Linked DNA regions of Homo sapiens: regions 2, 3, 4, 5 and 6 are each linked to region 1. The links come from fine-mapping of genetic effects on gene expression. A gene starts in region 1. Each other region holds a variant in brackets. All regions are shown on one strand. Distances are from middle to middle.

What was found. PIP is the estimated chance that this variant, and not a neighbour inherited with it, causes the effect.
Region 2: its variant is fine-mapped to the expression of LHPP in caudate (GTEx, PIP 0.99). The same link has a PIP of 0.9 or more in amygdala.
Region 3: its variant is fine-mapped to the expression of LHPP in skeletal muscle (GTEx, PIP above 0.99).
Region 4: its variant is fine-mapped to the expression of LHPP in spinal cord (GTEx, PIP above 0.99).
Region 5: its variant is fine-mapped to the expression of LHPP in whole blood (TOPMed, PIP above 0.99).
Region 6: its variant is fine-mapped to the expression of LHPP in whole blood (INTERVAL, PIP above 0.99).

What each region holds. Positions count from the first base shown.
Region 1 is chr10:124,459,507-124,463,590 of GRCh38, reverse strand. It overlaps LHPP (phospholysine phosphohistidine inorganic pyrophosphate phosphatase), which reads right to left and starts at 1,768. Exons shown (of 7, transcript NM_022126.4): 1 at 1,604-1,768. The coding sequence starts at 1,728. RefSeq lists a silencer at 1,429-1,888.
Region 2 is chr10:124,574,802-124,578,885 of GRCh38, reverse strand. All of the region lies in intron 6 of LHPP (phospholysine phosphohistidine inorganic pyrophosphate phosphatase), which reads right to left. Among named protein-coding and RNA genes, the nearest start is that of LHPP, 120 kb to the right of the region's middle. The variant C/T (reference allele first, on the strand shown) is at 1,966.
Region 3 is chr10:124,494,188-124,498,271 of GRCh38, reverse strand. LHPP (phospholysine phosphohistidine inorganic pyrophosphate phosphatase) reads right to left here. Exons shown (of 7, transcript NM_022126.4): 4 at 1,248-1,311; 5 at 144-236. Among named protein-coding and RNA genes, the nearest start is that of LHPP, 34 kb to the right of the region's middle. RefSeq lists enhancers at 1,339-1,916, 1,917-2,494, 2,495-3,072. The variant A/C (reference allele first, on the strand shown) is at 1,853.
Region 4 is chr10:124,592,650-124,596,733 of GRCh38, reverse strand. The region is part of intron 6 of LHPP (phospholysine phosphohistidine inorganic pyrophosphate phosphatase); the gene reads right to left. Among named protein-coding and RNA genes, the nearest start is that of FAM53B-AS1, 110 kb to the left of the region's middle. The variant G/C (reference allele first, on the strand shown) is at 2,030.
Region 5 is chr10:124,603,647-124,607,730 of GRCh38, reverse strand. All of the region lies in intron 6 of LHPP (phospholysine phosphohistidine inorganic pyrophosphate phosphatase), which reads right to left. Among named protein-coding and RNA genes, the nearest start is that of FAM53B-AS1, 98 kb to the left of the region's middle. RefSeq lists an enhancer at 890-1,834. The variant T/A (reference allele first, on the strand shown) is at 1,905.
Region 6 is chr10:124,481,498-124,485,581 of GRCh38, reverse strand. It overlaps LHPP (phospholysine phosphohistidine inorganic pyrophosphate phosphatase), which reads right to left. Exons shown (of 7, transcript NM_022126.4): 2 at 1,256-1,443. Among named protein-coding and RNA genes, the nearest start is that of LHPP, 22 kb to the right of the region's middle. RefSeq lists enhancers at 832-1,367, 1,368-1,904, 3,515-4,051 and a silencer at 3,588-3,882. The variant G/A (reference allele first, on the strand shown) is at 2,539.

The sequences.
Region 1 (4,084 bases):
AGGAGTTCGAGACCAGCCTAGCCAGTATGGTGAAACCCCATGTCTACCAAAAATACAAAAATTAGCTGGGCGTGGTGGCGGGTGCCTGTAATCCCAGATACTTGGGAGGCTGAGGCAGGAGAATCACTTGAACCTGGGAGGCAGAGGTTGCAGTGAGCCCAGATGGCGCCACTGCACTCCGGCCTGGGCAACAAGAGCAAAACTGTCTCAAAAAAAAAAAAGTGTCCTCATGGTCAAGTCTTGGCTGGCACGATGTTCTCTTCCTCCTCCTCTCACCTAAACCAATGCAGTCCAACAGAATTATAATGAGAGCCACAAAGGTAATTTAAAGTTTTCTAATAAGCACATTAACAAAAGTTAAAAAAAAAAGGTATACTTAATTTCAAATATTTTAACCTAAAACAGTATATTAAAAATATTATCAACTGGGCATGTGGCTCACGCCTATAATCCCAGCACTTTGGGAGGCCGAGGCAGGTGGATCACCTGAGGTCAGGAGTTAGAGACCAGCCTGCCCAACATGGTGAAACCCCGTCTCTACTAAAAATACAAAAAATTAGCCGGGTGTGGTGGCACATGCCTGTAATTCCAGCTATTCAGGAGGCTGAGGCAGGAGAATCGCTTGAACCTGGGAGGCGGCGGTTGCAGTCAGCAGAGATTGCACCACTGCATTCCAGCCTGGGCAACAAGAGCAAAACTCCGTCTCAAACAAAACAAATAAAAAAAGTAACTGGGCATGATGGCGGGTGCCTGTAATCCCAGCTACTCGGGAGCCTGAAGGGGGAGAATCACTTGCACCCGGGAGGCGGAGGTTGCAGTGAGCCGAGATCGTGCCATTGCACTCCAGCCTGGGCGACAGAGCAAGACTCCATCTGAAAAGAACAAAACAAAACAAACAAAAAGTATATCATTTCAACAGGCAAACAACATAACCCATTTTCATGTTTTTATTTTACATTTTACTCACGAAGTCTGGTGTTTTTGGGGGTTTTGTTTATGAGACCGTCTCGCTCTGCAGTCCAGGCTAGAGTACAGTGGGGTGATCACAGCTCACTGTAGCCTTGACCTCCTGGGCTCAAGCGATCCTCCTGCCTCAGCCTCCCAAGTGGCTGGGCCTACAGGCGTGCACCACCACACCCGGCTAATTTTTAAATTTTTGGCAGAGACGGGGTCTCCCTATGTTGCCCAGGGTGGTCTCCAACCCCCTAGCCTCAAGCGATCCTCCCTCCTCTGCCTCTGCAAGTGCTAGAATCACAGATGCGAGCCACCGCGCCCGGCTAAGTCTTGTTAATCGGTATGCATTTTACGCTTACAGCACATCTCAATTCAGACTGGCCGCAGGTCAAGCGCTCAGCAGCGCACGTACCAGGTGGCCGCCCTGTCTGACCGCGCAGCCCTAACCAGCAGAGTCCTGGTGCTCGCCGGGGGCAACAGTGGGGTCGTCCGTGGTCAGCACTGTGCGCGCACCGGGGTGGGAAGGGGGAGACCGAGGCGGGGCCTGCGCCGCGGCCCCGCCCCCTGCCGCCCCGCCCCCTGCCGGCAGCCAGGGAGCGGGCTGAGCTTAGAGCTCGGCGGCCCCAGCGGCGTCCCGGGGCCCACTCACCTGGCCACCGCCTCCACCGAGCCGGCGATGGCCGTGCCGCCGCCCGCGCCGCTGTCGTACAGCACGCCCGAGATGTCAAGCAGCACCCCGCGCACGCCAGCCAGCCGCTTGCCCCACGGTGCCATGGCGCCCGGCCCTGCTCCTCAGCTCCGCGTCCCAACCGACGCCGGCGCCGGCGCCGCGGCCGCGCAGGGGCGCCTGGGAACTGTAGTCCCGCGGGCGGGGCAGGGCAAGAAGACCGGGTGCAAACCCGGAACTGGGGCGCGGCCTGGGCACCCCGGCGTCACTCGCCCCTGAAACGGTGTCCTTTTCGGAAGCTTTCTTCCCAGGAGATCAGCGGACAAAGAGCAGGAAAAGCAGAAAACAAGTCCCTAAGAAAGGTCAAAGGCAAATTGAGACAAGAAGGCACCTGTAGCCAGGGGCGGTGGTTCACGCCTGCAATCCCAGCACTTTGGGAGGCAGAAGCGGGCGGACAGCTTGTGCCCAGGAGTTCTAGACCAACCTAGTCAACATAGTGAGACCCTGTCTCTATTAAAGAAAGAAAGAAAAAGTACAATACAAAATTGAGGCCGGGCGTAGTGGCTTATGCCTGTAATCCCAGCACTTTGGGAGGCTGAGGCGGGTGGATCGCTTGAGATCAGGAGTTCGAGACCAGCCTGGTCAACATGGTGAAACCCCTGTCTCTACTAAAAATACAAAAATCACCTAGGTGTGGTGGCGCATGCCTGTAGTCCCAGCTACTCGGTAGGCTGAGGCGGAAGAACCGCTTGAACCTGGGAGGCGGAGGTTGCAGTGAGCCGAGATTGCACCACTGCACTCCAGCCGGGGCGACAGAGCAAGACTTTGTCTTAAAAAAAAAAAAAATTATATGCAGATAACAGCCCTGCATAGATGAGGATGCATAGGACCTGGGCTGAGAAGAAAACGGGACTATCACAATGCGTTAAACCCAGGAGGTTTTTGGATAAGCTATAAAATACCACTCGATGCTACATTATTTTTGCAATAAATACACATTGATATTAAAAGGGAGGAGTTTCCTCAATGGCCCCTCGGAACCTTTCAAGTTATTAAATAGAAACGAGAACACTTTACTTCTGGTCCAACATAGCTTTGAGCTTTCAAAGAAGAGAGGATCATATTATTTCACCATTTCTTTTCAGGCTCTTGATTCACAGAAAGGATGAGGAATTCGTTGAAATGTTATGGGGTTCAATGAATTGTGTATATTTTGTTGACATGCTTACTAGGGGAGCTGTTTACAAGTGAAATAAAATACAGTTCCTACCCTTTGGGATTTCCACTAATGGGGTTGGGGAGTAGTATACCTTATATAAGGGTTCTTAGTCGCAGACAATAGACACCACTCCAGCTAGAGGGGTTTTGTTTACATGAGGTGAAGGAGCTTACAGATGACGGGTCTAAGTCCTACACAGCCAGGAGCCATGCAGCCACGAGAAACACTTAATTTTACTACTCCATTGGGACCACTGCCCCATCACTTAGTGCAGCCCCCAGCATAGCTGCCCCCAAAAGAACAAAACATATCCACCACTGTGCCCTCCACCTGTGGCCACCCACTCACTTTCACTGTGTCTGGCTTGGTGGAACCTAGCCCACGCTGCAAAGGAGTCTGGGAAATGCAGTTTTTAGTGTTCCAGGGGCTGAGTGAGTCAGTTTGGAGAATCTGCTAGGAACATCATGAACCGTACACGTATTGAGACCCTACTCTGTGCAGTGGGCACAAAAAAGTTCTAGGGTGTGATCCTTGCCTTCCAGGATCAAGACTGGGCAGAGAACAATGGAAGACCTTCACGACTGCTGACCAAATGTGTGCCAAGTGGCAATGAGTGACACAGACACAGTCAAGAGGATGACCTCTGCAGGCCTAGGAGGGCAGCTGTGGCTTCTGGGCAGGGGCAGCCTGAAATGGACCTTGGAGAATGGCTGGGCTTTAGCTTCATGCCAAGGAGGAGGAAAAGGGGTGCTTCTGCCAGTGGTGTGAGCCTACCCATAGTTGTTTCTTTTCAGTCAGCTCTGTGGGTACTCTTGGGCAAGTCCCTTTTCATTTCTACGACTACAGTAGACAGAATAGTGCCCCCTTGAGATGTCCACCTCCCAATCCCCACAACCTCTAAATATATTACCTGACATGGCAAAAGGGACTTAGATCTTGCAGAGCCTATGCTCCTGTAGGGAGATTATCCTGGATGGTCCAGGTGGGCCCAGTATAATGACATGAGTCCTCATAAGGGAAAGAGGGAAGCAGGAGAGAGTCAGAGTCAGAGAAGGAGGTGTGACAGCAGAAGCAGAGGTCAGAGAGAGAGGTGTGAAGATACCGTGCTACTGGCCTTGAATACAAAGGGGCCATGAGCCAAGAAATGCAGGTGGCCTCTGGAAGCTAAAAAAGGCAAAGAATTGGATTCTCCCCTAGAGCCTCCAGAAGGAATGCAGCCCTGCTGGTACTTCAAGTTTAGGACT
Region 2 (4,084 bases), 120 kb before region 1:
GGAGCCAAAGCTAAAGCAGCACTCAGGGCTGTGAAGAGCTTTTTTCCACAGTCAGGACAAAATGTGCCAGGCACTGGCCCCATGCCCCCTAGGTGCTGGGCTGCACTGGATGGTGGGGGTGCAAGCGGGGAGGGCAGAGATGCTGCTCAGCCCCTGCTAGCTTCTGACGCGTGGCGCGGTGTAAGCCCTGCATCCAGCAACTGTGCCTATGTCCCCTCAGCTCTGTGCCACCACAGCACCTGCCACACACACAGTTACATCCTCCCTGAACCCTCTCCCTCCCACACTGGCCAAGGCAGGGTGAGATGTCACCCTCTGAGCTCCCCAACACCCTGTGCCTCCTGATCAGAGCCCGTCACACCAGTGGTAACCGTTTGCGTCCCGCCAGTCCTTCACAGCAGACGCTCCACCTCAGAGACACTCAAGAACCCCTGCTGAATAAATGAATGGATGAATGAGTGAGCAGATCGGAGAAGGACACGTGAGGGCCAGTGACACATCGGGCTCCGCAGAGGACCCCAAGCCATGCCTGTGGCCCTGTGGCTCACCTGTCAAGTGGGGACTCGCAGAGCCGCCCCTGAGGTGGTCACGGGGCGTGTGCTGAGCACAGAGCCAGCAGCCCCTGCACGGACTTGGTCTTCGTTCTACTCCCTTGCAAATGCCCTGGGAAGCAGGTCAAGGCTATCAGCAGGGAGCAACCTGTGAAGGCTTCCTGGAGGTGACAGCATGTGGTGGGGCCTAGGAAGGCAGTGGGAACTCCAAATGTGTCTATGGGAGGAAGAGCGACTCAGGTGTGTGCCTGACCACTGTCCTGGGGCTTGGTCCCAGTCAGGTTCTCGGCTGGGGCCACTCTAGCACACCTGGCATAGAGGAAGAGGTCCTTCCAGCCCTTGGAAAGCACAGTTAGAGGAAACCTGGGTGGCACTCCCAGGATGGGGCTGTGTGTGCTGCACCGAGGTGGGGACCAGTGTGGCCCCACCTCACCTCAGGTAGCTCAGAGCCTGGGGGCTGAGAGGTCACACAAGGAGCTGGAGTAGCTGAGTACAGTTGTGACGGGGCCACAAGATTCAAGTCCCAATGCTGCCAGAGTGGAGGAGGGGCAGCCCCAAGGAAGGCCTTCCCCTGGGGAGGGATAGGAAGGTGAAGGTATGTGCATATGTGTGCACACATATGCATGTGCATGCATGTGTATTTACACATGTGTGCATGTATGTGTGCACACATGTGTAGGATGGGGCAGAACTGGTCACTGCTTCACATCAGGGAAGGAGAGATGACCACAGGGTGACATTTCAAAATGAGGAAGGCAGGGCCAGGCCTCTAAGGTTACCTGGTGCTGGGTAAAGAGGGACCTGGCTGTCCACCTGCCTCAGAGCCTCAGATTCCCTGGGGAACCTGAAAGCCGGAGGTGTGTCCTCTGGAGAGTCTCAACTGACAGTTTATGCAGCTAATTAAGTTTTTTCTTTGGATCCATAAAATCTCAGGGTGGACTCATTCCAAGGGATGCCTTCCTTTAAAGAAAAGGTTAGATGGGAAAAGGCTGTATGGGTGGGCCAGGGGTGGGAGGTGACCCCTGTGCCCAGGAGGCTGGGGTGGACGCTGGGGATGGTCTAGTCTTGGGTTGGCTGGGCTTGGCTGAGCCACCCTGGCCTCGGCCATCAGACACACAGCCTGGCGGTCGGGAGCACAAGCTCAGGACCCATCAGCCTACCTGGCCCTTCTCCTGGTCCAGCACGGACCCACCTGAGCAGGCTATGGAACCTGTCTGGCCTCTGCTCTCCTAGCTCTGAAATGAGGATGACAATGGTACCTACTTTCTAGGGTCTGGAAAGACTGAGTATGCGCTCAGTAGACTCTATTATTCGGTTTCCTTATCCTCAAAATGCAAATTACAGTGCCTACTTTATTTCTGGGTCGTGGCTGTTGAGAGGGCGGAGCAATGTACCTGTGCACTCAGGATCATGG[C/T]GGGCCAAGTCCCCTTGACAGTGGCACATGGAGGCCTGGCTGTGGTCGGGTGCTCAGCAGCCCACCCACGGGCCCGGGCTGGATGAGGTATCGTGGGCTACGGAAGGACAGGTGCACGAGGGCAGGGCTTTGCACAAACACTAATGTGGTCTCCCCGTCTACAGGGCAGGTAACTCCTGCCCTAAAGAACCCCCCTCAGCCCCCCAGTACCCCCGCCCTCAGCTCTGCCTATCCCTCGCTCAGGGAAGGAGTTTTGTGTGTGCAGTGAGGAGACCTCTGTATCCCATATTACCAGCAGGCCTGGGGGCAGACCATGGAGGAGGGTCTGGGGGCGAGATATGGGGGAGTCTGGGGTAAGATATAGGGGTGGCAGCAAAGGGGGATCTGGGGGCAGGCCATGGAGGGGGGTCTGGGAACAGCATATGGTAGGGAGTGGGAGCAAGATATAGGGGTTCTGGAGGCAGGATGGATATGAGGGGGTCTGGGAGCAGCTCATGGAAAGGAGTCTGGGGGTGGGATATACGGGTACCGCAAGGGGGGTCCTGGGGGCAACCCCTGAAGTGGGGTCTGGCCCTGCTGCCACCCCAGCGCCCCCACATGCTGCCTCATACCCCACACTAGTACTTTATGTTCTGCCGGGTTGGTAATGGGTTTTTCTTTGAACACGTTTCTGGGAAAGCTGTATTCTCACTCCTGCCTGCCAGGTAGTTTTAACATGTGTGAGCACTCTATTAGGCAGTACAATTATAATCTCATGTGAAGTCACCCTCAGCAGCTGATCAAGCCCGGGGTGTTCAGTGAACACAGTGGTTAAGAAACCAGGTCTGAGAGCTCCGGACAATGCAGAAACGACCAATCCAGTGGGAACCCCCATTTCTTTCGGCTCATACCTTTCTCATGAAGCACTGATTAGTATGTATCACAGCAGGCCCCAAGGGATGTGAACGTTTTCAGGGGGCCACCAGGCTGCCCAGACCCCCGACCTGGCACCCAGGTCCTCACCCAGCCCTGGCTCTCTGCCGTCCAGGCACCTCATGCCCCTGCGACCTCGCACACCCAACACGCCAGCCTTTCCTTCACTCACTCATCCACATGCACAATGCCTTTGGGGGTCAGGGTGTGGGGGACCGGGATGCAAGTTGGAGGTGGTGAGAGTGCAGGGGACACAGATCCGACCACGTGACGCAGTGGCAGTGGGTCCAGGGAAGCTGGTGCAGGAGTGGACAAAGGGGGCCAGGACGAGGGGAAAGACAGACACAAGGGCCAGCCAGTCCTGCAGACGCCTACAGAGGTCTCTGCTCAGAGCTTGGACCAAAGTGCTGAGGTAGGAGTCAAGAAACCCTGTAGCTCCTGCCCCCAGGAGAGGCTGCAGGACATGGGCACAGGGGACTGTCATGGAAAATCAGGGGCTGACGCATCCTAGGAAGAACAAAGCAGGGGTCCTGCAGAGAGAGAACCGGGTGCTTCTGCCTCAGGCAGCTGGAGAGGGCTTCTCCAAGTAAATGGCGTATTAGGGAGTGAACTGTACCTCCGCCCCCACTGAAGCCCTAAGCCCCAGTGTGCCTGTCCTTGGAGATGCGGACAGCTTGGTTTTGTCGGATGCTCCCCATGGTTAGGCTGAGTGGTGCGTTGGGGCAAGGGCACCTGCAGGAGGTAAGCTGCCCTTCTCAGCACACCAGGGGTGCACGCCGCTTCATGACTGGTGACATGAACCTTGATCACCTGGCCAAGGCTGTGTCCACCAGGATTCTCCACCGTAAACTTCCTATTTTGCCCTTTGTAATTGCTCAATATTTGGGGGTGGGGGGAATTACTTTAAGACTATGCAAAAATATTCTGTTTCTGCTTAAACTCCCCAAGGGCTCTGTTTCGAGGCTGCCAAGTTTGAGATACTTCATGATGGCAAGGGGGAGGTTGCATGGCTACTGATGGCAGCTTCTGAGCTCAGGGGAGGGCCCGGCAGGAGGCAGAGGCTGGAGAAGCATCATCTGGCTGGGTTTAAGGCCACAACCCAGGTGGGTTCCCTGGGGAGAGAGTGGAGAAGGACAGCAGTGGGCCCAAGCCTGGAGCCCATGACCTGGAAGATCAGGAAGGGATGGAGGCCTCAGGAAGACGAGGA
Region 3 (4,084 bases), 35 kb before region 1:
GCCAGGTCAGCTTTCACAGGGAGCCCACGCTTGGCTGCCTGGCCAACCCCACAGGCTGCCTGAGTCCTGTAATCCATTCCAAGCTCCAGGGCCTCCCTGACGGGGCTGCCTCCCCTGACCCACTTCACAAGGCGCCAACCTACCTGGTGGGCTTCCACTCCTATCGCTTGCAGGGCAGACTTGAAAAACTCAGGAGAAGGCTTCCCCACCACCTCGGCTTTGATGCCACAGGCATACTGGGAAAAGAGAGAGGGACATGGCATAAGTTTGGGATCAAGGAACAGGTGTATGCCCAGCCACGGAAACACTGTCCCAAATGTGCCCCCAAGAGTCAAGGGCCTTGAAGAAGCAGGATGCTGTGGGCCTGAGAACTCATCTCACAGGCAGGAGCCTCACAACTCCAGAAAGGGCTGCCCGGGTCACTCAGGTCCCCTAGCACCAGGCACCCTGCCATCCACTCAAAGGCCTACCCACAGCAGAAGGCATCCAAGAGCTGGCAAAACTACAGGGCTCCCAAGGGCCAGCAGAGCAGTGCTCTGCTCACTCGCCTGCAATTCCGTCCTCTCATCCCTTCTCCCCCTCTTCTCCCCTGCCCACTCGCAGCTCATCACAGGGCTCCATCTGCTCGTCTGCCTCTCCCTCCCACCTGACGGCAGGCAGGCAGGAGGGGCTGCAGCTGTGAGGATGGGACGGGATGTGAGGCTGACCTGGGGCAGCTAATGGGACCTGGGCCAGAGTGGACCCAGGGGAGCCCCACCCGGAGGCCTGGCCACAGATGGCCTTGGAAACTGAAGGGGAAGTCAGGAAGGAGGCCAGTGAGGACCCGTCAAGCTTGAGGTGCTGCAGATGCCCAGGGTCAGGAATGAGAGCGGTGGTCAGCACTGATACAGAAGCCACAAGCCCGAGAGGAGTGTGGCAGAGAGCAGCTGGGAGAGCGGCAGGGTCCACGGCGGGCAGGGGGGGCTGCGCCCACTGGAGGATGGGGAGGATGGGGAGGATGGGGAGGATGGGGAGGATGGGGAGGATGGGAAGGATGGGAAGGGAGAGATGGGGAGGGAGGAGGACAGCTGAGGGCCTGAGGGCCCGAGGGCCCGGCCAGGGGAGCCCAGAATAGGAAGGCAGCCTTTGTGGAAGCCCAAAAGGCCATTTGTACGTTAATTAAGCACAGCCTCTTCTCAACAAAGACCCAAAAAGTCCCAGGTGCCCTGAGGTCTGAAGAGAGTTTGGGACAGAACCAGGGCTGGTACCTCAAGCGCCTTCATGTAGGGACCAACGTCCAGCATCAGGCCAGAGGTCTCCTTGTAGTAACGCCTAGGAGAGAGCAGAACGGAGCACGGGATGCTGAGCACGGGGAGCTGACCGCAGGATGCTAAGTATCGGGAGCTGAGCACCGGGCCTGTCCCGCTGGCTGCAGAGCCAAGCCGCGGCTGAGGGGCAGTCCAGGCGCTACGCTGAGAATGACCGCAGGGGACCAGCACCACAGAGCCGGGCGGCAGGCCGCCACACCCAGTGGGGCGAGCGCAGCAGCCAGCAGCTCCAGGGATGCCACAGGTCGCACAGAACGCAACCCTGCTGTCAGACTCGTGGGGACCCTGCTGCAATGATTAACAGGGGACCCAGAAGGCAGACGGTTTCAGTTGCTAACACAGAGAATGACAAGTGACCTGTGTCCTGGGAAGGAACAGCAGGTCCACGGGGTATGTGGCGAACCCCTAATTGCTAATAATTAACCCCTAATTGCTGGCTGAAGAAGAGAACTCCATTAGTTCCACAGCACCCTGCCGCATCCCGTTAGCCGGAGGTCAAGCGAGGTGCCAGGTTTCATGGGCGCCAGATGCTTTTATGAGAAGAC[A/C]ACTGTTCCTTCCCGTCTCATGGAGGTGGAGACAGGCTCTGCACGAGGGAGCATTCCTCTCTCAAAATGGCCTCACTGCTCTTTGAGCCCAGGGCTGGCTTGGTGGCTGGCTGCAGCCCGGCCAGGCTCACCCTACGATCGCGTCACACTGAGCCTCAAGGCACTCACAGTCCAGACACATGGTGGGCCAGACCTGGCTCTGGCTGAACTAAGCCAATTGACTACAATGAGGCGAGAAAGTGGTTTAACCTGCGCTGCTCTGAAGACGCAGTTCATTGAAAGCCAAGAATACACAAGGGGGCTTGATTCTTGGAACCACTAAAATGTTTTGCCATCCACCATCACATCAGTTTCCCTCTCCTCCTGCCATGCCCTTACGATATGGGAGACGTGGAGAAAGCACGTATGCAGAAAACGAGAGGGAAGAAGAGCGCATGCTGACTTGAGCATTCAGATCTCACTGCCTTCTAACGGTGTGACTTTGGGTTGCTTACGCCTGTGGGCCTCAGTTTCCTAATCTGTAAAATGGGCAAAACGAACAACAAACAATACCTACCTCACGGATTGCTGTGAAGCTTGAACAAAATAACGCATGCAAAGTTATTAACTCGGTACCTTCCATGCAGAAGCTGCCCAGATGAGACAGGAGAATATTATTATAAATAACCTTTCACCCAGGCTGACACAAGCAATAAGATGAGCTGGGGGAAGGAAAAAATGAACACAGCCCTGTTCAATTTGGGGGCTGAAATGTGTTCTGTGACCACCTGGGGTGTGAGAACTGAGCTCCTCGGGAGCTGCCCTGGGGCTGTGCCCTTCCTCCAGCTCCGCCACTCCTGGGCACCCTGCCTGTCCCTTTCTGCCCCACCTGATGCCTTGAAGCTGTAGCAGGCACCCAGCCACACCTGTGAGATGAACCGCTCACCCCTGTGCGTCCTCCACTGCCTGCCTCAGATGCTTCCCGGCTAAACTTACAAGCTGGGCTGCAGGTACGGGCTTCAGCCAAACCTGGGCCTTGCCAGGGCTGGTCCCCCTGCCACTCCTGTTAGGCAGCTTTGGAGCTTGGAGTCTGTTTGTTGAAGGTGTGGGCATCTCCTGTCATGACGTGGGCTTGGGACTCTCCACGTGAACCCCAGGCCTGTTCCACAGCCTCTGAGGCTCTGTGCTCTGGGGTCACGGCACAGGGATACAGGCTGGCTGGGATGCTGTGAATGCTCACAGAGGGGGGACCTGAAAATGCCCTCCCTTTTAGAGTGACCCCCAAAAACAGGCTTAGAAATCTCTAAGTTCATGTCTTAAACGCAGACTTCAAATGTATATTTTGCATTTACATGGCCTAAAAAAGTACTGCTTTTTCTTTTTCCCAGTTGGACAATCAGCTACTTTGGTCTGATGGTTTCCTTAGTGGGGTCCAGAGTTCTCAGGAAACAGTGAGGGGACACCGGGTCCTGGGGCCTGCACTGGCTGGTGCTGCAAATGGCCCAGGTTACCTTGGTCCCCCTTGGCATTAACGATCCCAGATGCTCCACAGCCCTTTGCAGGACTCAGGGATACTCCCAGCCCCAGCCTGCTCCACAGGGACTCACAGTCTGGTGGGGAAGCAAAGAAGCCCACAGACAAACTTTAAAGGGCAGGACCCAGGGGAGGGGCAGTCTGCTTGAACAGGGCGGGGGACAGGCTGGGTTCAGGGAGGCAGCAGAGGCATGGAAAGCTGAGACCTGAGCTAAAAGGAAGTGAAGGGGAGGTCCGGGTCCAGGGAGCACCTTGGAATCCACTGAGCACCCTGCTGAGGACCAGGGTGGCCACGCCACCACAGGCAAGGCCCTCTGCAGGCCCTCAAAGGCCATGACCCTCGTCCCCTCCTGCCCACCTGTGCCAGGAGAAGGAGGGCATCGAGGTGGGTAGGGAGGGCCTCCCTAATGAAGTGATGTGTGGAAGTAAGCCAGGACGGAGGAAAGAATATACCCCACACAGGAAATGCTTACCCAGCAACAAAAGAAAACCTGAAATCAACAAAACTACTCCATTGCGACAGGTACAGCTCTGTTTGGAGCTGAGGATTCTGGGGGCTTCTGGGCCCAGACCCCTGTCCCTCAGCTACCCTGGGGCCGGCTGGAGGAGCTAGAGGTTGGGTGGACGGGAGCAAGCACCTCCCATCATCTGGCAAAACCTCCTAAGGGGACCCACGCGGCGCCACTTCCTCTGGCCTCAAGTTCCCTGCAGCCTCTTCGA
Region 4 (4,084 bases), 130 kb before region 1:
CAGGTCCCTTAAAGTCGGGCCTCCCCACCCGTCCACCCAGCTTCATGGTGTCCCCCTGCTCATAGGCCAGGCTGCTCCTCCCTGGGTGTTGTTTAGGGTCCCACGTTTAGGGCTCTTGTTCCAAGAAAAGAGTGGCCCCAACCTAGAGATGCAGCTGTGCTACCTCCACAGCTCTCCAAGGATTCACACGGGACTGCTTATGAGCGCCGGCCCACTCTGTGTGTGTTCCACCTAAAAGGGATTCATGCAGGCCCCTCAGGAAGGAAATGACACCGCTCCACGTCCACCTGAATGGCCAGCGTGGAGAGGTCCGGCCACATCGTGTGCTGCAGAAGACATGGTGCTATGGGAACTCAGCGAGGCTGGCGGGAGCGCAACATGGTACATCAGACACTCTGGAGAAATGTTTGGCAAGAGTCTCCTACACTAAACACATGAATGCCGCGGGACCCAGCAACCTCACTCCTGAGTCACACACATGAAATGAGGCTATGTCCACCAAGAGCCATGGACAGATATGTTCTGATCAGCTCTGTTCATAAGGACCCCAAGCCAGAAACAGCCCATGTGACAGCAACAGTGACATGATAAACACATCGTGGTCCAGCCTCGTGATGAAACATCACCCACGGATGCCGTAGGATGGAGTCTGGCTGCACAGAACAACACGGATGAAATGAACGGTGGGTGTTCATGGGTAGGAGCCCATTCACCTCAAGTTTACCGTCAGGCAGAAGACGGGGGTGAAGGCACGGGCTAGCTCCCTCTGGAGAAGAGTGTTGACTGGGTGGAGGGAGGCTTGGGTATTGGAGGTGCTCCTCGTCTTCATCTGGGTGGCTGTGCAGGGAGAGCGGTGTGTACAGATTCATCAGCCACACACTTCAGATTCATGCACTTTGCTATATGCAAGTTAAGCCTCAGACAGATGTCTTTATTTATTTATTTTTAAGTGTCCCAGATAGCCTAGAAGGGCACACAGTGATATTTGTACTGGGACAGATGCAGAGGAAGTTTGCAGGGTGGCTCAGAAACCACAGTAAGGAAGAAGGGAGATATCTACACCAGATGGCTCAGAAACCACAGTAAGGAAGAAAGGAGATATCTACACCAGAAGCCTGGGAATGTGAGCGAAAAAACTTAGCTTTGAGTTCCCTGGCAGCCAAAGCAAAGAGGGAATCCCTGTAGGTTAACACAGAAGCAGATAACTGTTTAGGAGTGACAGCCTTCCCAGCAGCACAGGCCAGGGTGTGAGGGACGTGAATGGCCTTCTATGGCAGCCAAGGCTCCAGCACAGGCTACCTTGGCGCTCAGAAGCCATTCTTCCCACACGAGCAGACTCCTGGCCATCTCCAATGGATGCAAACTCTGAGGTGCCTGCTGTGTGGCTCCATGGGGGACAACCGGGCTCTGGGCCCAGACTGCAGTCCCTCCTCCTCCCCCTGGCAGCCTGCTGGGTGCCCTCCTCGCGTCCCCAACCAGGTTGCAGCGGGTGGGGAAGAACAGAGCTGGGACTGATCCCTCTCCAGTGTTCACCCCCCAACCCTGCCCAGAACCCCCATGCAGGAGAAGTCACTCCAAAGGCAGAGGGGACCAGAGGCTGTCACCTGGGGAGAGTTCATTCCATCAGAAAGAGGCAGGCCCAGCCTCATTAAATGACATGGTGTATTAGTCTGTTTTCATGCTGCTAATGAAGACATACCTGAGACTGGGTAATGTTTAAAGGAAAGAAGTTTAATGGACTCACAACTCCACATGGCTGGGGAGGCCTCACAATCATGGCAGAAGACAAAGGAAGAGCAAAGGGGCTGGGTGCGGTGGCTCATGCCTGTAATCCCAGCACTTTGGGAAGCTGAGGCAGGTGGATCACTCGAGATCAGGCATTCAAGACCAGCCTGGCCAACATGGTGAAACCCCTCTCTACTAAAAAATACAAAAATTAGCCGGGTGTGGTGGTGCATGCCTGTTTTCCAAGCTACTCAGGAGGCTGAGGCAGGAGAATTGCTTGGACCCAGGAGGCAGAGGTTGCAGT[G/C]AGCTGAGATCACACCACTGCATTCCAGCCTGGGTGACAGAGTGAGACTCCATCTCAAATTAAAAAAAAAAAAAAAGTTTACTGAATTGAAGGAAAAAAGCTATAGGAATTGCAGAGATATTTACGATAGAAAAGGAGACGTTCGACCCTGGGAGTAGTTAAGGCCGGCAGAGTTTATCTGCTCTGTAAAATATTATGCAGCTATGAACAATGAGCAGGGTGAGAAAGAGAAGACTTATATGTGCACGTGCCCACAGCTACAGAAGGGGGCTGGCAGGAAACTGGAGGAAATGAACAACTGTCTAAACATGCACTTTTTTCTTTTAAGTTCCCTTGGCTACAGTGATGCTGTCTTTTTTTTTTTTTTTTTTTTTTGAGATGGAGTCTCACTCTGCCGCCCAGGCTGGAGTGCAATGGCATGATCTTGGCTCACTACAACCTCTGCCTCCTAGGTTCAAGTGATTCTCTTGCCTCCGCCTCCTGAGTAGCTGGGATTATAGGCATGCACCATCATGCCCAGCTAGTTTTTTTGTATTTTTAGTAGAGACAGGGTTTCCCCATGTTGGCCAGGCTGGTGTTGAACTCCTGACCTCAAGTGATCCGCCTGCCTCAGCCTCCCAAAGTGCTGGTGGGAGCCCCCCACGTCCGGCCGATGCTGTCTTAAAATGTGCGTAATAATAACAGTCTCTAGTTTGGTCATGGCAGCACTCCACAGAGGTACTGAGGATGCTGAAAGGTCAAGGGTATTCTGCAGCCCAGCCAGACGCAGCAAGGACCTGGTGTTCAATAGCTGTGGGAGGGACAGCCCTGGCCCTGGGGCCAAATACCCAAGCAGGGCAGGCATGGCAAATGCCACCTGCTCCGCAGACCATATCAGTACCTTATGGAGTAAGGGACACCCTCGGTCAGCCGAGGGAGCCCCTGGCGCCGGCAAAACCTCCTGCGTCAAACGCGCATGACCTGGAGACTGCCCAGAGCTGGTCCTCGCCCCAACCCCTCTCCTCAGCCACCGCCACTGGGGACGTCGCGTTTGGGTCCACCACCCTCTGGATAGAGTGCCCTGGGGGATCTGCCCATCAGGTCCATGGTGGTGCCTCACTCGGGGCCACTTGGGGAAGACCTCATGTCACACCCCCAAGAGGAGGACATGGGAGTAAAGTTCGGGTCATGCAGCCAACACACGGGGGCTAGAACAAGGACCCCAGTGTGACTCTAATGCTGGAAACAACTGCAGGGAAACAAGAGTGATCCCCCAACCTGAGAGATGGAGGGCCTTTAGGATGCAACCTCTCCCATCTCAGGTGTGGAAACTGAGGCCCGGGAGGGGCAGATGCTCATCCGAGGCGGCCAGGGAGGCTGTACCTAAGAGGATAAGAGTCTGTTTCCCTCCCGAGAGCGCAGCCTGGTTCTGGGCAGATGGGGTTACCGCCCTGCCACCCACGGGCTGCAGGACCCAAAGAGAAAGAGGTGCTCTCAGCTGGCTTCCCAGGACGCTCTCTTCTGTCTGGACTTGCAATCCAGGGACCAGGGCAGGGGGCATGTGCTGTCTTCATCAGTTCCTCCACACAGATGGGGAGACTGAGGCATAGCACAGGGACCCAGAGCGGGCCAGTGGGGAGGGCAGCACCCTCCCCCTGTATTTCCCTAGCAACTTGTACCCGGTTCCCCGAAACGCCGACTGAGGCCACCTCATCAATCATAGCTGCAACGTCATCACCTCATAAACTGTCAAAGCGGCCCAGTGAGGGTCCATTCATTCTGGCCCCCGGGACGCCAGCCTGCCTGGGGCGGTGCGCCCCACACTGGGCCGATTGTGCCCACAGGGACCCCATCCAAGCTGCCCGGGCTCCTGGCGGGCTGCCGCGCCCTGGACGATTCCTAGACGGAATCTTGTTTTCTTCAGTTTTCATCTCCAGGCCAGGGAGACAAGCTGCCCTCCAGGACACTCTGTCAACACTGCTTTGCTTTTCCTCAGACCCTGGTCCTGTCCCACCGTTTACTGGGAAGCCACAAACCAAGTAAGACAGCCATGGGGCCTCCGGGAAGGCCTGGAGG
Region 5 (4,084 bases), 140 kb before region 1:
CCAGCAAACACCGCCCATGATTCATCATCCGAGCCCCCGGGGGACTGGCCCCCAGGACCCCCTCCTTGGACACCTTCCCCAGGTGCCCTGGGGCCAGGCTTATTGTCCAGGCAAAAGCAACCAGCCCCGAGAGGGAACAAGAGGTCTCCCCATAGAAGATGACGCTTTGTAATGAGAATCCGGCCAGCCCCACTCCGCACGTGTACCTAGCCGAATGGCGTCCGTGGCTAATTATGTTTAATTACATATCATTTAAATTCAAGAATCCACTAAAAGAAAGGATTGCATTAGCACCCGGCCGGTGTTTGCCCACACGCAGCGGAAATCGTGGACTTTTATGTCTTAATTACGTGACGCTGCTGTGGGCTGTGTCTCCCAGGGAGCTGGGGTAGGCAGGAGGGGACCTGTTCCTGGCCTGGTGGCCCCAAAGCCCCTGAAGCAGCTCTGCTTTGTCCAATGGCCTGGGCAGGAGGAGTCCCTGCCCCACACTGGCCAGTGCCCTGTGACCTGTGGACCTCAGAGATGTCACGGTACAAAAGCTGAACCAAGAAACCCAGCAAAGGTGTGTCCTCGGCAGTGGGTACAGAGCGGAGAGGGTGAAGCAGGAGGGGCCGCAGACCATCCTGCCCGGAGTGGCCCTACTGGGACAGAGCTGGAGGAGGAGGAAGAGACAGACAGAGAGACACGGCCACACACGGAGGGAGGGAGGGCAGGGACAGGAAGAACCATGAGACAGGCAGAAACGGAAAAAGAGGATGAAGCAGAGAAAAGAGGGCAGAGAGAGGGCAGGCGAGTAGAGACAGACACATGGAGGGAGGGGACAGGCATGGGACACAGGAACAGGGGCAGGGGCCTGTAACAGGCAGGGAAGGGCTGGGGCTGCCCCCACGGTTCTGTGTCCTGGCCATGTGGGCCTGCGTTAAGCCCCTCCGCCCTTCCCTGGCTACGGGCCTGGCTGACGGCTCCCCGTGGGGGTCACAGCGCTGCTCCTCCCCCTGCCCCAGGCCCAGCCCAGGCCCCCAGACAGCTGAGCACCCTGCTCTGTCCCCAAAAAAGTGCATGGCCCAGGGCCGGTCTCTTCACCTGCCCGAGCCTCAGTTTCCTCATCTGTAAGGTAGCATAGGGCTTGGCTCTGGGGGCCACTCTGAAACGAAACAAAAGAGGCAAGACTGCACACGAAGTTGGCGTTTCCCCTGCACCTGGGGACCCTGCAGCTCACCCTGGCGCTGGCCCTGCCCCCTCCCACCTCCACCATCTGCCCTCCAGGGTTCACAGTCCAGTTCCACACTCACAGTTGTCAGCACTGCTGGGAAAGAAAGAAAAGGGCCTGGAGTCTGAGGGCACTGATGGGAGAGGGAGTGGGGCAGGACTGAGCGGGGCAGGGACGCTTCCGGAAACAGGGACGTTAAGGCTGAGCACTGCTCCCGTCCATCGTCCTTGCTGCTGTCCCCCCGAGAATGGTGTGGAGACACCAGGCCTTTGCTGGGTGGCTTCTTCACTAAGCCAGAGTGCCTGGCCCTCGGGGCCTGGCTGGGAGGTGGGAGCAGTGAGTGATTTCCCCAGGCGCCTGCGGGGCGGCTGCGGGTTCTCCTCTCCTCTCCTGGGGGCAGCCTCCCTCGGGCTGCATTTGGGCGTCTCTGGCTGAGGACCTGCTTCTGATGTGGGGTGGGCCCTCCAGGTACCTCCCCCATCCTTGCGCAGGAGCCTGCAGGGTGGGTCCTGCTGCCCGGGTTTCGGAGGTAGAAGCGGAGGCACACAGCTGGGAGGCATGTGGCTGCAGGACCAGGAGGCTGGCCTTAACCACCGGAACCCACAGGGTGACCCGGGCCCCTTGAAGGCAGGAGGTCTTCTGCTGAAGCCTGTTCCCTTCCCCTTCCCCCTCCCCCTCCACTGGCTCTCCCTCC[T/A]GCCTGGCCCCCTCTCCTCTTTTGCAGCCAGAGTGGCTTCCCTAAATGCTCAGCTGCTCCCGCCTCCCCTGTGTAAACTGCTGTGGCTCCCTATTGCCCACATCATAGCCTGGCTCCTCAGCATGGCAGATGAGTCCATCCTGACTGGGCCCCACCTGCGGACCTCCCTCGCCTCGCCAGCCACTCAGTGTCTGGGCTGCTGCTCTTCAGACATCCCAGCTCTCCCTGCCATTGCCCATGCTGTGCCCTGGAATGCTCTTGAAACCTGCTCCACCTGCAAACTCCTGTTCACGTTTCAAGACCCCACTCACCTGTCCCCATCTCCCACTGTATGCTCCTTCCACAGGGCGAGTTGCTCTCTCTTCTGAGCATGCAGAATGTGCCCTCCAACCACCCCATGCCATCAAAGCTGGGGGCTGCTCTGCCACTTCATCTGCAGGTGCCAGTGTTGACTTCGCTTCCTGGAGGGACAGGCCAGGTTTCCTGCCCTCGGTGGTCCCCCCCACAGGCCTGACCCAGAGCAGGCACCCAGGAAGTGCCCACCAAATGAATAAACAAAGGCCCCCAGCTGGGCAGGCCAGTGCCTGTCATCAGTGATTCCTCCCCCTCATGCTCTGTCAGCCGAATGCAGGGAACGGGTGAGTGAGAGGCAGAAAACAAGGCGGTTCTGTGCCTGGGGCCTGGCCAGCTTCACAGGGACAGTCTTTGTACCAATCGAAGGAAAATGGTGGCCAGGCCCCAGCAAAAGAGCCCCATGAGGCCAGTCTCCCTGCCGCCTCCTCCAGGGCACACGCAGGCCAGCACCGCCTCCTGGGGAACACTGACCAAGGGAGACGGGTGCGGCCTCTCCCCGAGGGGCTCTTGAGGGACCTGAGCTGCCCGGGACTCCCAGTCGGTGGCCCACCCGCCTCCTCTCTACCCTGCAGGGGCAGGGGAAGGGGCAGGGTGGGGCAGAGACTCTCACAACTGGAGGCCGCAACAGCTGCCTACCCAGGGAGGGGCAGGTATCCCTGTCCCCATTTGCTTTGGAAAGGCAGTGGCTGGGAGCCAGGTGCAGGGGGCGGCTGCCCAGTGAATTCAGGGATCTGGGCACTGGCATCAGAGGGTGACGCCAGCTCGGCTGTGCCGACAGACTTGCAGGACAAGGACAGAGGGTGATTCATGAGGTGGAGGTAGTGAGGCCGGGCAAGGGGCATCCTTCCATCAGAACCCCAGGAGCCCAAGACCCCCGGGGGCCTGGGGGGTTATTTCTAGAAGGGTGTTCACCAGAGCCTGACCCTGGCAAGTGCCTGGAGGATGCAGCTGGGAGGTCTGCCTCCACCTGCACACCCGCAGCTTCTCTGAAGGCTGCTTATCAGATGGTCTGCACCGGTACATCACACACACTAGGCCTGTGCCCATGGGGTTCCCTGCTGTCCACGTGCTGGCCCAGCACGGCCACCCTCAGGACAGCAGCTTGCTGGGGCCCAGTGAGGTGGGCAGAAGGCCCAGAACATCCCACATCCAGCCCGTGACCTGGCCTGAGCTGGGTCCCTGGCAGGTGCCCGAGGGTCGGTGGCCTCCTTACGGGGTAGCTGGGTGGCGGAGTGGAGATGGCCACAGATCTCAGGCAGGCTGCTCCGACCTCCGTCCCCTGGGTTCTGGAAGCAGGTCGGGGAATGACATGCCCAGACCCATGTACCTCTGGGAAGGTGCCATGTCGTGCTGCTTACAAAGAAACCCGAGCAGGAGCTCCTTCCCATGGAGCCTGTGCATCCAGCCAAGGCCTCCCAAGCCCCTCTTCTCCCAGGACCTGGGGGTCAAGAGGCACACAAAGGACTCTGACCTGGTCCCTGCCTGCAAAGAGCTCACATGGCACCTGAGCCCAGCACTCCAGCCCCAGGCCCGGGCCTTAGCAGCTGCCTGGGGGACACAGGCTCCAGCCTCAGCTACCTGTTCTCACTCAGGGATTGCTCAGCCCTCAGGCCCGTGTCCTCCCAGGCCAGCTCTGCCCACAGGCCTGGGGACTGCTGAGTCAACCTGGAGCCCCGGAGCCCAGCGTGGGGACCCTCCAGCCCAGGGCACCTCCTGCCATTGAAGCCAGCTGGGTCCTGGCACGAAGGGTGGCCTGGAGGGACCGGAGGGTCCAGGGCCACATCAGTGCCGAGGCGAGGGCCGCGAGGAGGCTCCCAGCTTGGAGA
Region 6 (4,084 bases), 22 kb before region 1:
TATTTGAACTTTGTTGGATGCTTGAAAATTTTCATAAAATGTTAGACAGAAAATCCACCAATGACTGAAAAAAAAAATTCCAAGTCTGAAAACAAGGGTCTAGTTATTGAAAACACGGATGCAGGATTACAGCTGAGGAAGGGCATTCATCCTCCCTTCAGCCTCCCAGCTTTGCCGTCTGCTTGTCTGATTCACTGGCCAAGGCCACCCTCCAAGCGGATGCCCACTTCCCTCTCCTGCTGGCTTCTTCCAGCTCCACTCCCGGGTCCAGCAACCCTTTTCTGGAGGGTGGGGCAAGATATTTTTCTTAAATCTTCTTTCTTTGAAGACCATGTTCTAAAGGCACTAGCAGGGATCCTAGATTACAGAGAAGGAATTTTGAGAAACATGATTTCTAAAGGCCAGGCCTGTCACCCTTAACTGGCACCAGGGCTATGAAGTCGACATCTAGGCTTTCCAGGGAGCACCCGCCACTTCTTGAGAGCCCCCACCTTGCCCTGGAAAGGAAAAAACCATGTTTGCCTCTGCCTAGCAGTTTGTAAAACTAAAAATATCAAGTGCAGAGGAAGGAAGAAGGTGCAGTGGACCAATGGAGAAGTGTCTGGAATTGCTAATGTCTCTTCTTTTTAAATATTCAGGAGGCACCAGTAATATTGTTCCTTCTGCTTCATTCCAAGAAAACCTCCCCACTGAGGGTCAAAGGGGCTGTCTGTTCTTGCATTCAGACTAAAATCAGGATGCAAACCTTGTTCCTACGCCATTTGCAAACTGTTCCAAAGAGCAGGGCTGGTTTTCACATAGTTGAAGGCTATGGTGCCAGACGTTAGAAGCTATGGACCTCAATGTAGCTTCTCATTTATATTCATTCATTCTCATTCTCATTTTCTCTCTCTCTCTCTCTCTCTCTCTCTGTCTCTTTCTCAACAGGAGCTAGAACTCCGCCACCTTGACAATTCCCTGGCCGCTTGGTCCATCCTAGATCAGGAAAGAGAGCCTAGGATTTTCCTCCCAGGAGCCATCCAGAACCTGCTCTAAGGACCCTCTGGTGTGAGGCCAAGGAATGGACAGAGCTGGGTCCTAACCTGCCCCCAGCCCCCAGCAGGAAGTCCCATGAGGTTTTTACCCCCAACCCATGAGTGTTGGTGGCCTAGCTCAGTCAGTGGTTTGGCCCAGTGAAAGAGGCTCTCTGCACAGCCCCCACCCTGGGAAAGGGGAGCTTTCACCCCCGTGAGGTCCTGGTGTCCGACAGGCCTACCGTCATGGATGAGCAGGTATGGTCGCAGGCCTTGCTCCTTCAGGATCTGGCAGGCAGCTGGTGCCGGGGCGGTCACCTCCTGCTCAGAGATGTCAAATCCCAGCCTCTGAAGCTGCCCCACCAGCTCTGCCCGGGACTTCTGCGACTCGTTGGTGCAGAACCTCACCTTCAGCCGGGAACGCTTCAGTCTGCGGCAGGGGAGACACAGGCCCGGGAAGTCAGCACGTGGAGTGTTGGGCCTCTGAAGGAGGTTGCGCGGTGATTCTCGAAGGGCATCCAGCAAAGCCCAGAGCAGACTAGGCCACTGCGAGCCCCTGAGGGGGTCCTGGCTGATCCAGGATGTGTTCAGGCTGGGATTTCTGAGCTGAAGCAGATCCCTTCTCAGAGGACCCCCATACCACGCCCCGACAACTCTTTTCCATCCTCACTGGACTTCATACACCTGAGGCTCCCCGAGGTTCCCCACCTGACCCCCCTTTTCATTGCCTCTCCCCTTGCCTGGAATGCAACTCTGTCCCCCCGCCTCTCTACCTGTGCCACTTCTTTATTTTTTTTATTTCTTTATTTTTGAGATGGAGTCTCGCTCTTGTCGCCCAGGCTGGAGTGCAGTGGCATGATCTCAGCTCACTGCAACCTCCGCCTCCCAGATTCAAGCGATTCTCCTGCCTCAGCCTCCAGAGCAGCTGGGATTACAGGCGCCTGCCATCATACCTGGCTAATTTTTTGTATTTTTAGTACAGATGGGGTTTCACTATGTTAGCAAGGCTGGTCTCGAACTCCTGACCTCAGGTGTCCCAAAGTGCTGGGATTACAGGTGTGAGCCACCGTGCCTGGCCCACCTGCCTGGCCACTTCTACCCAGCCCCTGAGATCCATGCAATACCTCCTCTCCACAATCCTGCTCAGCCTGGCTAGGGGCCACCTCTGAATGTCCACAGCTATTTCTCTGTCCCTTTCCACCACATTTGGCATTTCCACTTGCAAGTGAGCTGCACACGTCCACGCCTTACTAACTCTGGATCCATACTTCCCAAAAAGTACAAAGGCAGATGGCCCGAGACAGGTTTGTCTTCTCATCACTGTCAATGGAGAAAGGTTTGCCAAAGTCATCAGGGACACCAACATTCCGGGATGGACAGACAGGACGTGGACCCTGCCCAAACCCAGCCTGGAGGTCTCATGAACTTCAGGATGCTGCCACTGGCCGGCGGCACCGAGCTTCTTCCCTCCTGACTTCATAGGAGACCCGCGAATCCAGGCTGCACCTGGGCAAGTTCTCAGAAC[G/A]CACCAAATGAAGTAACATCCACCCTTCTGCAAACTGTCACTGAGCGCCTACTACGTGCCTGGCACTGGCCTGGTGCACAGAGCTGTAGTCGTGAGCATGGAAAAGTTCCCTGATCTCCAGGCCACCATCCAGGTTGGAATAGGAGGAGGTTGGAATAGGAACAAGAGACCCTGCAAAGGAAGGGCAATTTGTGACTGAGAAGAGAGAGACGCTATGCAGAATATAAACAGGGTGAGCAGACAGAGGGTGACAAGGTGGGGTAGGAAGGTCAGGGGAGGCCTCCCTGGGGAAGCAAGAGAGAGGGCCAGGGTGTGGTGCTTCTGTGCAGGGAGAGGAGGCTGGAGGACCTGGCGCCCACCAGGAAGGGACCCGAGCGTGCTAGAGGAACCTACAGAGGCAGGCGGGGTGGGTCACTCAGACCTGGGGGGAGGGTGACAGGCAGGACCTGGCTCCCTCGCCAAGATCACAAGATCCCTTCCTGGACAAACCGGCCCCAACAAGGCAGCGGTCATATTTGACATCTGCATGGAGCTGCAGTGTGGACTCGTGGAAAAGACATCAAGCTGCAAGCCCAAGGGCCGGGAGGCACTTTTAAGAAACCCTAGTAAAATTAATCAGCCATGCTAATTGCATCTGGCACTGTTCTCAGACAGGTCCCGAAACACACACATTCCACTGATCTCCAAAGATGCAGACATCTTGGCTCTTCACCTATTCTTTCAAGTTGTGTATTTTTTATAACCTAAGCAATAGTGTTAAATGAATAATTTAAAATTTATAGAAAACACACATAGAGAGGAGGCATGTGCTCAAGTTCTGTTTACAGATGTGGCCCAATGAAATGAATACACGCAGATTCAACCCAGTTACTAGAACTACGGCTTGAAATCAACTTCCATCTGAGCAAGTGAGACCCAACTAAAAACTCAACTCAAACTGAACCCAGTGTGAATGTAATTTATCCATGTTATGGGTGAGGGACTGAATCCCAGAAATGTCAAGGGCTTTCTGTTCCGCTCTTGAGCCTGAGACTTTGGAGATGGAGCTGATATCTACACACAGTGGAGTCAGGAACAGGAAATCAGCACTCCTGGAGCTCTCCCACATAGTGGGGAAAGGACACAGCCCAGTGTGGGGTCTTAAAAGACTGGGGATTCAGGCCCAACTGGAGACCTGAGGGACGGACAAGGAGATGGCAGGAAAGGGCAGGCCAGGTGGTGGGAAGGGCCACCCACCTTGCGCACAGGCAGGTGTGCACTGGCCCCACCCTCTCGGATAGAAAGAACTCGAGCAGCGTGGGGTATGTGGAAGGTGGAGCCAGGAAATGAGGCTGGAGTGGAGGACCACTGAGAGGGCAGATAAGGCAGAGCATGGTGGCTCAGTCCTGTAACCCCAGCACTTTGGGAGGTCGAGGTGGGTGGATCACTTGAGGGCAGGAGTTTGAGATCAGCCTGGTCAACATGGAGAAATCCTGTCTGTACTAAAAATACCAAAAAAAATTAGCCAGGTGTGGTGGCGGGCACCTGTAGTCCTAGCTACTCGGGA